3 linked regions of the Homo sapiens genome follow. The protein of the gene in region 3 purifies or fractionates together with the protein of the main gene of each other region. This does not show direct contact. Each region holds a gene or a part of one and is shown on either strand. Other genes may lie near its edges.

Evidence for each region. Proteins that work in one complex are often made in the same cells at the same time.
Region 1: the proteins of ISG20 (region 3) and EPB41L1 purify together in Homo sapiens (affinity purification with mass spectrometry; one large-scale study listed by BioGRID and IntAct). This does not show direct contact.
Region 2: the proteins of ISG20 (region 3) and CSNK1G3 purify together in Homo sapiens (affinity purification with mass spectrometry; 2 studies listed by BioGRID and IntAct, with this or other methods). This does not show direct contact.

What each region holds. Positions count from the first base shown.
Region 1 is NC_000020.11:36,230,520-36,233,299, forward strand, and holds the end of EPB41L1 (band 4.1-like protein 1), read left to right. Parts: 3' UTR 1-2,280; downstream 2,281-2,780. UniProt on the Homo sapiens protein: May function to confer stability and plasticity to neuronal membrane via multiple interactions, including the spectrin-actin-based cytoskeleton, integral membrane channels and membrane-associated guanylate kinases.
Region 2 is NC_000005.10:123,515,177-123,518,676, forward strand, and holds part of CSNK1G3 (casein kinase I isoform gamma-3), read left to right. Parts: intron 1-3,500. UniProt on the Homo sapiens protein: Serine/threonine-protein kinase. Casein kinases are operationally defined by their preferential utilization of acidic proteins such as caseins as substrates. It can phosphorylate a large number of proteins. Participates in Wnt signaling.
Region 3 is NC_000015.10:88,647,908-88,653,535, forward strand, and holds part of ISG20 (interferon-stimulated gene 20 kDa protein), read left to right. Parts: intron 1-2,327; exon of another isoform or gene 2,328-4,007; coding exon of another isoform or gene 4,008-4,202; coding exon 4,203-4,403; intron 4,404-5,628.

The DNA of each region.
Region 1 (2,780 bases), on a different chromosome or scaffold from region 3:
GGGGTGGGGGGCCCTAATGGAGAGGTGTGGGTTTGGCAAGAAAGAAGCAACACAGATGTCGTCCCCAAAATGCCAGTTCAAGACACCTTCTCCCTGCCCCCCTGGTAGTAACAGTCAGGGCCTGGTCTGTGCTCAGGTACTGGGTCCCAGTCTGGGACTCTGCTGCTGAAGTTGCCACAGTAGAGGTCCCTGGCTTAGTCCTTATCTCCCTACGGGGCTTGCCTTGGTTTTCAGTCTTCTCTCTCTTTCTCTCTTTTTTTTTTTTTTGCCACATTCTGCCCTTCCCTGACCCCATTGTAATAACCAACTCCATATCCAAAGGGAGGTGGTGCTCTCAGCCATTGTAGAAGATGGTGGCTTTAACCTGACTGTCTAAAAATTCCCAGCTAAGCCTTTTCCTCTACTCTCTTCCTTGTTCTGAATCATTTCTTCTTCTCAGGCCAAAGTAGCCATGGTAAGGAGGCTTCATGGGGCAGACCCTGAAAGATCAAAACTGCATTTGCAAAGCCCTCCCCTGTCCCAGGACAAAGCTGAGACTGACGGGTGATGTTGCTCATAGGCTCCAGCTCTGCATAAGACCTTGGCTTGGAGACCTCCCTCTCAGTCAACAGCTGAACTCTGAGCTTGTGCCCAGAAATTACCCCAAGACCACAGGAACCCTTCAAGAAGCTCCCATCACAAGCTTGGCATTGCTCTCTGCCACACGTGGGCTTCCTCAGGCTTGTCTGCCACAAGCTACTTCTCTGAGCTCAGAAAGTGCCCCTTGATGAGGGAAAATGTCCCACTGCACTGCGAATTTCTCAGTTCCATTTTACCTCCCAGTCCTCCTTCTAAACCAGTTAATAAATTCATTCCACAAGTATTTACTGATTACCTGCTTGTGCCAGGGACTATTCTCAGGCTGAAGAAGGTGGGAGGGGAGGGCGGAACCTGAGGAGCCACCTGAGCCAGCTTTATATTTCAACCATGGCTGGCCCATCTGAGAGCATCTCCCCACTCTCGCCAACCTATCGGGGCATAGCCCAGGGATGCCCCCAGGCGGCCCAGGTTAGATGCGTCCCTTTGGCTTGTCAGTGATGACATACACCTTAGCTGCTTAGCTGGTGCTGGCCTGAGGCAGGGCAGGAAATCAGAATAGCATTTGCTTCTCTGGGCAAATGGGAAGTTCAGCGGGGCAGCAGAATCAGTGGCATTCCCCCTGGTGCAGGCCGGTGGGTCCACTCCAACTCCCCCTGAGTGTAGCAGCACACTTTCCATACACCAGGTTCTTTCTACAATCCTGGTGGAAAAGCCACAGAACCTTCTTCCTGCCCTTCTTGAGAGTTCCCCCTCTTTCTGGGTCAAGAGCTGGAGTGGTGGCTCCATCCTCTCTGGGCCACTTCGGTCTAGGAACTCATCTTTGCAGGAACCAGGAGTCCTGAGCACACTGAACACACCTCAGAGGGAGGATCCTTGTTGTGGATTTTGCACCTGGCTTTGGGGCAGGGGTGAAGTGACCAGGCTTAGCTTGTGGAGTTTATGGGCCACCAGGGTTTGGGGAAATCACCATCCCGCGGATGCTGTGACCTCCCTTCTACGGAGATGCAGGCAGTGCCACGAGGGAGGAGGGGACCTGCAAAGCTAGAATCTAGGGCACTGTTTCCTCCCCATCCTTCTCTTTGTAGAGAATAGAGACGTTTGTCTTGTCTGTCTTCAACCTACTTTTCCTTTTCTCTTTTTTGTTTCTCATCCTCTCTGTGCCACCTCTCCACCCAGGAGGCCATGTAGCATAGTGGAAAAAGTCCCTGAGGGCGGTTAGGAGTTCTGGGTGACCATCCTGGCTCAGCTCCTAACTCACCATGTGACATCAGGCTATCCCCATTCCCCCTCTTGGGCCTCAGTTTCCCGACTTGCAAAATAAGCAGAAAGAACCAGATGCTCTCCAGGGTCTTTTTCTACTTTGCTATCTCATGGGTCTTCATTTTCTCTTATTTTGTTTTCTCTGGATCTTTTCCATCTGAGGGTACAGGAAGTACCAGGACCTGTTTCAGTTTTTGAATCCTGCAAGCACATTCCAAGACTGGCCTGAAACTGCATGAGCAACATCACTCGAAATAATTTTTTTTTTCAAAAGCACCTTAACAACCAATTGCGATGCTGTCCTGTTCCTTTTTACTCACACCCTTCTCTCCTTTCTCGTCCCCATGCTCCCCCACCTCAGTGCTCCGTGCTGTATGCGTGTGCTCTCTGTTCTTGTATACTCAATATAAGTGAAATAAATGTGTTTGATGCTGAACCATACTTCCTTGGCACCTCTCCTCTCTCTCTCTCTCTCTCTCTCTCTCTCTCTCTCTCTCACTGTCTCTCTCTGACTTTGGCCACTGGTACAAGTTGGCACTGTGGGAGGGGCTAAAACTGAAGTGGAGACATCCCAACTTAGAACATGTTTATGCAACAAATATTTGGAACTCAAGGTGGTCCAGGCCTTGGGTGACTCTCCAGGCACAACACAAACAAGACAAAAGTCCCTGCCCTTCATGAACCCACAGGCTAGTGGAGGAAACAGATGCCAACACAGGCAAACAGTCCGTTACAGAGCACTCAGCACTAGGAAGGAAATACACCGGGAGAAGGGAAGGAGGGTCACTGAAGGAGACCACTTTAAATACAGTGGCCAGGTAAGGCCTCCCTGAGGAGGCGATCTGTGAGCTGAATGAAAAGAAGGATCAATCAACAAAGGCGAGGAACTTTGGTGCACATTCTAGGAGAGGGAACAGTAAGCATACAGGCCCCAGGACGTG
Region 2 (3,500 bases), on a different chromosome or scaffold from region 3:
TCTCCAGTTACTTCTCTGTGTCTCCTCTGATCCATCCTGTAATCCTCTCCATGCTGGGAGTAGACTTATTCTGGTATAGTTTATTGTTTCAGATGTTTTTCAGAATGGAACAAGCGGTTGTTTTGTTCCAAAGGGCTTCCCAAAAGGATGTGTCAAATTAAATAGAAGGAATGCTGAAGTATTGAATAACAAAATATAGGTCATTGAATAGTTATATTATTGTTAATAGTGAGATTTGCTGTGGATGAGATGAAATGTAAAGAATGTATATTTTCACAGAAAGTGGTTTTAATGAAGTAATTATAAAAGAATCTGTACGTGAGGAAAATTGATAGTAACAGAGGGATGATAAGATGAGAAATTTTCACAGTTCGGGATTAACGTGTGTGAGGTTTTTAAGTCATCTTAAATATTAGACGACCCTAAAATAATGTAACCCCACACTTAATCATTATCAAAGGAGTGCTTAGAAAAAAAAATCAGTTTATAAATGCAAGTAAAATCATGTTACAGGGAAAATTGTTTGAAGTTTTTTTTTCTTCTCCTAATTATTCCCCTCTTAGCTTCCCTAATTATTCCCCTCTTAGTATTCAAAAAGGACTTATAACTGAATTTGTGTTCCCTTCAACCTCCCAGTAACAACAATACCTCCTATAATTTATTAAGTGCCTACTTTGTATAGAGGCCATAAATGATACTATTACGACAACTCTGAGTTAGGTGGTGTAACCTCATTTTTGAGAGCAGGAAACAGTCTTCTAGAGTTTAAATAATGTGTTGAAGATATATCTTGGAAGTAGCAGAGTGCATATTTGAGTCAGTTTTTTTTTCTGACTTCAAAGTCTTAAGCCACCAATGATCTGTTTTTTCTTATCTTCCATCTTCATCCTTTTTTTGGTCTTTTCTCAAGCGGTTGGCAATTCGTGGTATTAATTGATAGTATGTGTCTGAGTGTTGGTTCTTTATGATGTAATTTCTTCAGAAGCGGTAGTTTTGAGGTATCTGTCTTTAATTGTGGGATCCTGTAGGTGCAGACAGTATGGTTCTGGTAATTTAAGGCACCTCAGAGCATCACCTTTTGCTGATCTGCAGGACAGAACTATGCTTGGATTCTTAATGTGTAGAAATCAAATGTGCTTTAATAATGTGAAATGATTTTCAAGGGCATCTGAACTGCTCAGGAAATATGGAATGGGAGATAAATGTAGAAATATATAACTTCTAGCGACATGGTGGAGGCTGCTGTTAGACATTTTTTCTTTTTTTTAAGCTCTCTCTGAAAGCTGAGATTTAGCAACTATAAATGTTTGGGCTTCCCTTCTATTATGAAACCTAAGGAAAGTATGTGTTTATTTGTTGTTAGACCATAGTGATTGGTTATACTCTCTCCTGCCACTTCGTGCTTATCATCTTAGTTATAAGAAATAACTCTTAACAATGAATTGAAGTGTTTATGTATTGGGGAGATAAGACACACTTTTTTGGTCGCTTTGTTTACCAATGATATATTACATAGTTGTAATTTATTGAAAATTTATGAGTAAGTTATGTCCACATGGCTAAATCATGTCCGCATTTTTCATAACTTTTCAATGGAATGAGAGATGGTCTCATGATACTCTTTTTCTTAAATACAAAGTTTAATGTTTTTTTTCTCTAGGTTAGTAATGTGAGGTTGAAGTTGTATTCAAATTTATTACATTTATTTAGATCACTTTGTGTTACCTGGAAGTACTTTCTTCAGTTGATAGCTACATTTGGAAAAAAAGGGAAGAGAGTTACCCTGTTATTCTGCCATTATATTCTTCATCAAAATGGAGGAAATTCATATGAAGTGCCAAGGACTATGTGATGCCTGCCACATAGTAGGCACTGTGTAAATCTTCTGTCCTTCATTTCAGAAGTTGCCGATAAGAATTTTAGAGGGTGGATTGGTGGGTAGACAAGCAAAGACTCTCGGGAACACCCTATTACAGGAAAATCTCTCATACCTGACCTCTGCTTAACCCACTCGTGAGATTAAATGATAGTCTTCATTCTCTCTGTAGAATTTGCTGACTGATGCTCATGCTACATTGAATGACAGTAGACTATTCTTTAGTTTTATCTTGAACTTTTATTCCCCCCAGTTACTGTAGACTTACCAAGAAACATTTGTGTTTGTACCCAACACACTGTTATGGCACTTGATGTTGTAATCACATAGTTTAATGAATTATTATTCAGTGAACTCTGAAGATAAAAAGGCGTTTGTATGAGAACCAATTGGCTACTTTGAAATCAAGTGAGTAGCCAAAATCAATTATGGTTGAAATAGATGAGGGTTAAATAATTTTAAATGATTAGGGAAAAAAAAACAAAAAACACCTAACGATCTAAAAAAATCTGCAATAATATTATTTTTCACGTTTGTAAAATGTCTTTCTGTGTTTAAGAAACAGAAACTGGAAATCACAGGTGTTGTTTTATGGGGGTAGTTTTTGCAAGAAAAAGGAAATAGAACTTTCTTCGATAGACCCACACTGGAAGAAAAGGCCATAGCTCTGTATTATAAGATTGTCTTGTGAATGGACATTTTTGTTTTAGTTGTAATAAAATGTATAGAGTTTGTAGATGTTGAGAAATGATTTCCTTTTTAGGCTAACTTCAGAACCATTTATTAATTGTAATATATTAAAGAAGTCTGCTTCTAAAACATCATCTTTCCTAGTTTACACTACTGCTTAGAGATTTATTTAATAACATCCTCTTTAAGAAAAAAAAAAAAAAAAAGGAAGATCCTGTTATTCCCAGAGGTTCATTCCTTAGAGTGAATTGTTTATCTAGTCAGGTGATCAATCTATGGTTCTCACATATTTCCCAGTATGGTCCCTAATCTGATTTCATAAGCTACCTTTCAACTTTTATGTACTGTCAGGGTTGAAGGGGTAAGCCTTCTTATAGTTCCAACATCTCCATCCAATTAGGAATGCTGGGGTAGAGGAGATTGTTCTTTGAAGGAGGAAATGTGACACCCTTGATATATACCAGGAGCACTTGAGCCTCCTATCTCACCTAGCTCAGTCCAAATGGAAAGGAGAACTTTCAGTTGAAGGAGCAGGAAGTCCAGGTTGGAGAAGGAGTGGTATATGTGGTATGCTATTTATTTTGGTGTAACCACATTGCTTGCTGAATTACAGTAGATGCTGAAATGGCACATTGAAGTATGAAGGTAGGGTGGGTGGCTCCAAGCTAGTACTTGAGAGCTCTGGTCTGCCCCTCTGTGATTTTCTTGGCTGTTTGTCTTCTGTGTGTTGGAGTCATCCTAAGGCCAGCAGCAAGATCACATCTAGACATGCACTGGCCAGAGGATGGAATGGATCTCTCTCTCTCTTTCTGTCTGTGTCTCTGGAAAAGCAAATACATCTTTTGCATAAGCCTACCAACATATTTTTCTCTTCGTATCTTATTGACCAGAATTAGGTCACATGAACGTCCTAACTAGTTATCATAAGGGAAGT
Region 3 (5,628 bases):
TGGGAGTGTCCTGTTGGGGCCCTGCCACCTGGCAGGTCCCTCTGGGTCTCAGCCAGATGAAGGAGGAAGGCTTCAATATCCAGATTTGCCCCAGGGTAAGTGGCCTTGTGGGAACCAGGCACTAGCCGGGGGGCGGGGACACCAGGGGAGCTTGGCAGGGGACAAGAGCAAAGAATGGGGCTGGAGCCACTCCAGAAGGTGATAGTAAGGGACCTGTCCTCTGTAAGAACAAGATTCTTCAGGGCCCCTTACTCATAGCCTCCTCTCCTGGCAGCCAAGAATGAATGAATGGGTACGTGAACTAGTGTATAATGGATGAATGAATGCATGGTAGAGGCAGCAGGCTCTGGACTGCTCAGCGGGATTCAGTGCAGAGATGTGCAGACTTGTTAGATGGGAAGAATCCCCTGAAACAGTTGCTGACACCCCTCCCTGGATATTTCAATTCAGTAGGTCTGTGTAGGGCCTGGCCCTCCTGGATTTTTGGATCAGGCACATCTGGGAAATACTTGGAGTAGAGTGGAAACACAGTGGAAGGTGTGTGCAGGCAGACAGCCGCACCTGGTCTGGCACTCCCCTGCTTGTGACCTGGGTGCACACCGCCCTGCGCCCCGCTTTGCTGGCGGGTCAGATGGTATGGAAGTCACCGCCTTGCACCGTTATCATTGTGTGCCTGGTAGTGCCCTGTCCCTTGGTCCTTGTGCTAATAATAACAACTACAGTAACAATGATGGGGTCAGGTGGATCCAGACACGGCACTGCAGCTTTCAGCTGACTAGCTGTGTGACTTGGGCAAGCCCCTTAATCTCTCTGATCTCGGGCTCCCTCCTCTGTAAAATGGAATTAAGAATAACCTCATTGAGGAGCTTCCTGAGGAGGTAAGGAAAGTGCCTGGCACAGTGCCAGGCTGCTAAGAGATCAATAAATGTCCCATCCCCCAGCCCCACCCCAGTTCTTTCCAGGAATTTGAGAGACTCCTCCCCCTGTGTTTGAAAGTGGCAAAGTCTGGCACACTTGCCTCATGACACTGACTCAGGGCAGGTCCTGTGGCCAGCAGGTCACACAGCCCCGAGGCCAGCCTGCCAGTGCCTTTCTCCGACTCCTGGGCTCCAGCAGGTGCCCGACTCCTTCCCTTTTCAGACCTGCCTCAGTCTGTGGAGCCCTGGCTGCTAAAGGGCCACTCAAGCCTCACCAGTCTGGGCCCTCACCTTACAAATGGGAAAACTGAAGCCCAGAGAGGGTCTTTGACATCCCTGAGGTCACACAGCAAGTTCCAGCATCTCTTCCTTCCCAGAATCTTTGTCCCAAAGAGTGGTGTCTCTTTGCTAAATAGATGGTTCTGTTCTTTCCCTTCTTCCTCTTCTTTCCTCGGCTTGTCCTCTCCCTCTTATTCTATTTGTCTCGTGGTGAGTCACATAGTGCCTCATGTAGACCCCCACTTCCCCTCTCCAGACTCTCAGGCTCGGGAAGTGATGGGTTTCCTGGGAATCCACACCATGATGACTCGTACCTTCTACGTCTGTGCCCAGCTGTGGCTGCCTCTGGGATGGTGGATGAGTTCCTTCAGGGCTTTGTGTGAACTGGGCCTGAGCCAAGCCCCTAGATGGGGAAAACAGGCCACATTGTTCAGGAGCACAAAGGATGTTAGCAAGAAAAGACACATGACCCATGGCCGCCCACACACCCACATCTCTCCACGCCCCGTGCCATTTCTGCCCGCCGCTGCGTGCTGGGTGGTTTCCTCTGCACAGAGTTTCCCTTGAGCTGCTACTCTGAGGTCGTGTGCCTGTTGTCATCTTTTAAAGCCTCAGTTTTGTCGCCATTTCCCAGGTGACCTCTAGCACACTCAAGTTTGAGAAGCGCTGGTGTGGTTCAGGAGCAGCGCCCCTTCATTCTCCAGCACACTCTCCCCAGTCCTCTAAGTCGAGCGTGAGCTCTGTCCAGAGAAGGCCTCCAACCAGACCATGTGGACCGCGGGGCAGGCTGGTGACACTGCCTGTTGACAGTGGATGGACAGACTGCTTCCCGCATAGTGACCCTGGGCAAGTCACATCTCCTCTCTGAGCCTCAGTCTCCTGTGGTTGCCAGGGGAGAACATGTAAAAGGGAACACATGATGTTCCAGGAGGCCGCTGGCTATCTAGAAGGAGAAGCAGGCTACGGGGAAGGTGTTAGGCACCAGAAGGCTCTTTCCTGGTGTACAGGCTAAGGTCGTGGGCTACATGCAGAGAAGGAGACGAAGGCTGTCCTAGAGCTGTCCAAAGTGGGCCTGGACTAGCCACGAGCCGCCCCTTTCCCTAATAGAGCTCACATCTGTTCTATTTTCAGGTCCCCTTCCCATCCTCTCCAACGGCAGCTGAGTGAAAGCAAGCTGACTGGCCTGTGTGACCAGAGCAGGGCAGGCTGTCCATGTGGGAGGCGAGGCGAGGAACGCGGGGCTGGGGCAGTCACAGCTGGGCGCCTGGGCTGCTGGAGGCCTGGAGTGGTCGTTCACTCTTCTGGCTCAGTGTGGCAGTGGCAGGCGGGCTCTGGATTCATCCCACTGGCTTCAAGGCCTGGCTTTGCCACTAACTAGCCGTGTGACTGTCCCAGTTATCAAATGGTGCTTGGCAAATCACACCAAAACTTACCGGTTCAAACAATGTCAATACTTATTTCGCTCGGCCACCTGCAGTTTGGGCAGGTGCTCTGCAGCAGGACAGGCCGTCAGTTAAGGCACCTTGAAGGCTGGGGGCTGGAACCATTGGAAGGTTTGCTCACCCACCTGTCTGGTGGCTGGTGCTGGCCTGCCTTGGACACATCACTATCTCGGTGGCTTTTCCCCGTGGTCTTTCCAGCATGGTGGCTTTGGGGTGGCCAGACATTTATTTATTTATTTATTTATTGAGACGGAGTCGTGCTCAGTCGCCCAAGCTGTAGTGCAGTGGCACGATCTCAGCTCACTTGCAATCTCCCTCCCAGGCTCAAGCAATTCTCCTGCCTCAGCCTCCCGAGTAACTGGGAATAGCCACGGCGCATGGGTAATTTTTGCATTTTTAGTAGAGACAGAGTCTCACCATGTTGGCCAGGCTGGTCTCAAACTCCTGGCCTCAGGTGATCCACCTGCCTCACCTCCCAAAGTGCTGGGATTACAGACGTGAGACACCGTGCCTGGCTGGTGGCCGGACTTCTTATAGAATTGCGGTCCCAGAGAGAAGTCAGAAGTCATACAGGCCAGCCCATATGCAATGGGAGGGGAGTTTGATTCCATCTTTTTTAAGAAGAGTGTCAAGGAATTTGCAAACTTGTTTTAAAATCATCAGAGTAAGCCTGGGCATGTCACTCCTCTGCATTTCAGATATTTCCTTTGTAAAACTCAGTTAAATGCAGTGCTCCCTCCTCACTGTTAGTTTTCTGTGGCTGCCGTAAGGAAGCCATCAACTTAGTGATTCACAGCAACACAGATGTCTTCTCTTACAGTTCTGTAGTTTCGAAGTTCAGCGTGGGTCTCACTGGTCTAAAATCAAAGTGTCAGTGGGGCTAGGTTCCTTCTGGATGCTCTGGGGAAGAATCCATTTCCTCGCCCTTTCTGGCTTCTAGAGGCTGCCTGAATACCTTAACTCACGGCCCCTCCCTCCATCTTCAAAGCCAGCAACAGCCTGTTTTCCTCATGTGGATTCACTCTGACCTCCACATGTAAGGAGGCTTGTGATTATGTTGGGACCACATGGGTAGGCCAGGTGATCTCCCCATTTGAAGGTCGACTGATTAGCAATCTAAGTTCTGCCCGGAACTTTAATTCCTCTTTGCCAGGTAATGCATTCACAGATCCTGGGGACTAGGGTGTGGACATCTTTGGGAGGTCATTATTCTGCCTGCCATAATAGAATTGTTGGGAAGATTAAACAACATAATATACATGACGTATGTTGAGGCACGCTTGGCACCTGGGAAATACTCAGGATGTACTAACCATTGCTCCTACACAGTTCAGCTCCTGAAGGAGTCCAGGTGGGCTTTTGGCACAGAATGAAACTATCAGGTGTGAGGAGGGTCCTAGTGCAATCTCTTCTTTTCAAAGATGATACATTTGAAGCCCAGGGAGGACTGATAATTTGCCCAAGGTCACACAGCCAGTCAAGGAGGGATTGCTCCCTTGCCAGCCCCAGCCCCACCCAGAAGATGCTGGGTCATGTAGGGGTGGGCACATGTCTTCCTGGCCAGATCCTGCAGCTCCTGAAAGGCAAGCTGGTGGTGGGTCATGACCTGAAGCACGACTTCCAGGCACTGAAAGAGGACATGAGCGGCTACACAATCTACGACACGTCCACTGACAGGCTGTTGTGGCGTGAGGCCAAGCTGGACCACTGCAGGCGTGTCTCCCTGCGGGTGCTGAGTGAGCGCCTCCTACACAAGAGCATCCAGGTGAGAACCTCCTCGTCCTTCTCCTCCTCCCCCCTCCTCCCCCTCCTCCCCCTCCTCCTCACCCATCTCCATTTCCTCCCCCTCCTCCCCCTCCTCCTCCCCCTCCTCCTCCCCCTCCTCCTTCTCCTCCTCCTTCTCCTCCCTCCTCCCCCTCCTCCTCCCCCTCCTCCTCCCCCTCCTCCTTCCCCTCCTCCTTCCCCTCCTCCTTCCCCTCCTCCCCCTTCCCCTCCCCCTTTGCCCTCCTCCCCTTCCTCCTCCCCCTCCCCCTCCCCCACCTCCTCGCTCTTCTCCCCTTCTTCCCCTTCCTCCTCCCCTGTCCCCTCCCTTTCCTCCTCCTCCCTCATGCCCTCGCACACCTCAGGGCAGCTTGCCTGAGGCATTGATGGTAGGTCCTGCTGTGCCTGGTCCCTGGCTGGTAGAGTGAGGATGAGGGCAGGGAAGGGAAAACACCCAACAAAGGTTTGCTTTTGTTGTTGAAATCAAGCCAGTTACCCTGTGGGAAGTGAAGCTTGCTCCCACCATAGAACTCTGGGCAATGATGTAAAGCACACACCTCACCTCAGATATGTCTCACAGCAGGGGCCGGGGAACTGGGATATTTGTACACCAGTTCCCATCAGCCACCAGCTGCTGCTGCTCCTGGGCACTGATTCCGCAGCACTTCTGGCTGGTGGGCAAAGCAGGCAGGAAAAGGCATACGGATATGGGGGGTTGGGAGTTCACCCTGTGGGAAGGGCAGAGGGAGAGGCGCCAGACACTAAGAGCCAGGGCTGTACACAGGGACCCTTCAGGTCAACAGCTCTTTATTAAACACCTGCTGCCTGCTCTAGGCCAGATCCTAGAGACGCAGGGTGAGCAAGACCCGTCTCTGTCCCTGAGCTCTTGGTTGGTTGGGAGGTGGCCCTTAACCAGATCATCAGCACACATGGTAAGGAGTGTGTGACGGAGGGAAGGGCAGTGCCCTGGGAGCAGGATGAAGGATGGGGCTGGCAGGGCAGGAGACCAGATCTGAACAGAGCCTGGAGGGTCTTAGTCAAGGAGGGCAGAAGAAGGCATACAGAGTGGGGCCAGGTGAGTCAAAGCCTGAGGCTCGGGGAGGGGCTGGGGAGCACGGAGCCCGCCCCTAGCCTGCTGGCAAGAGCTGTAGGAATCATGTCCGGAGTAGGGAACAGGGCTGAGTCTGGGCCTGTTAGCCTCAAGGCACATAAGGCACATAAGGGCCAGG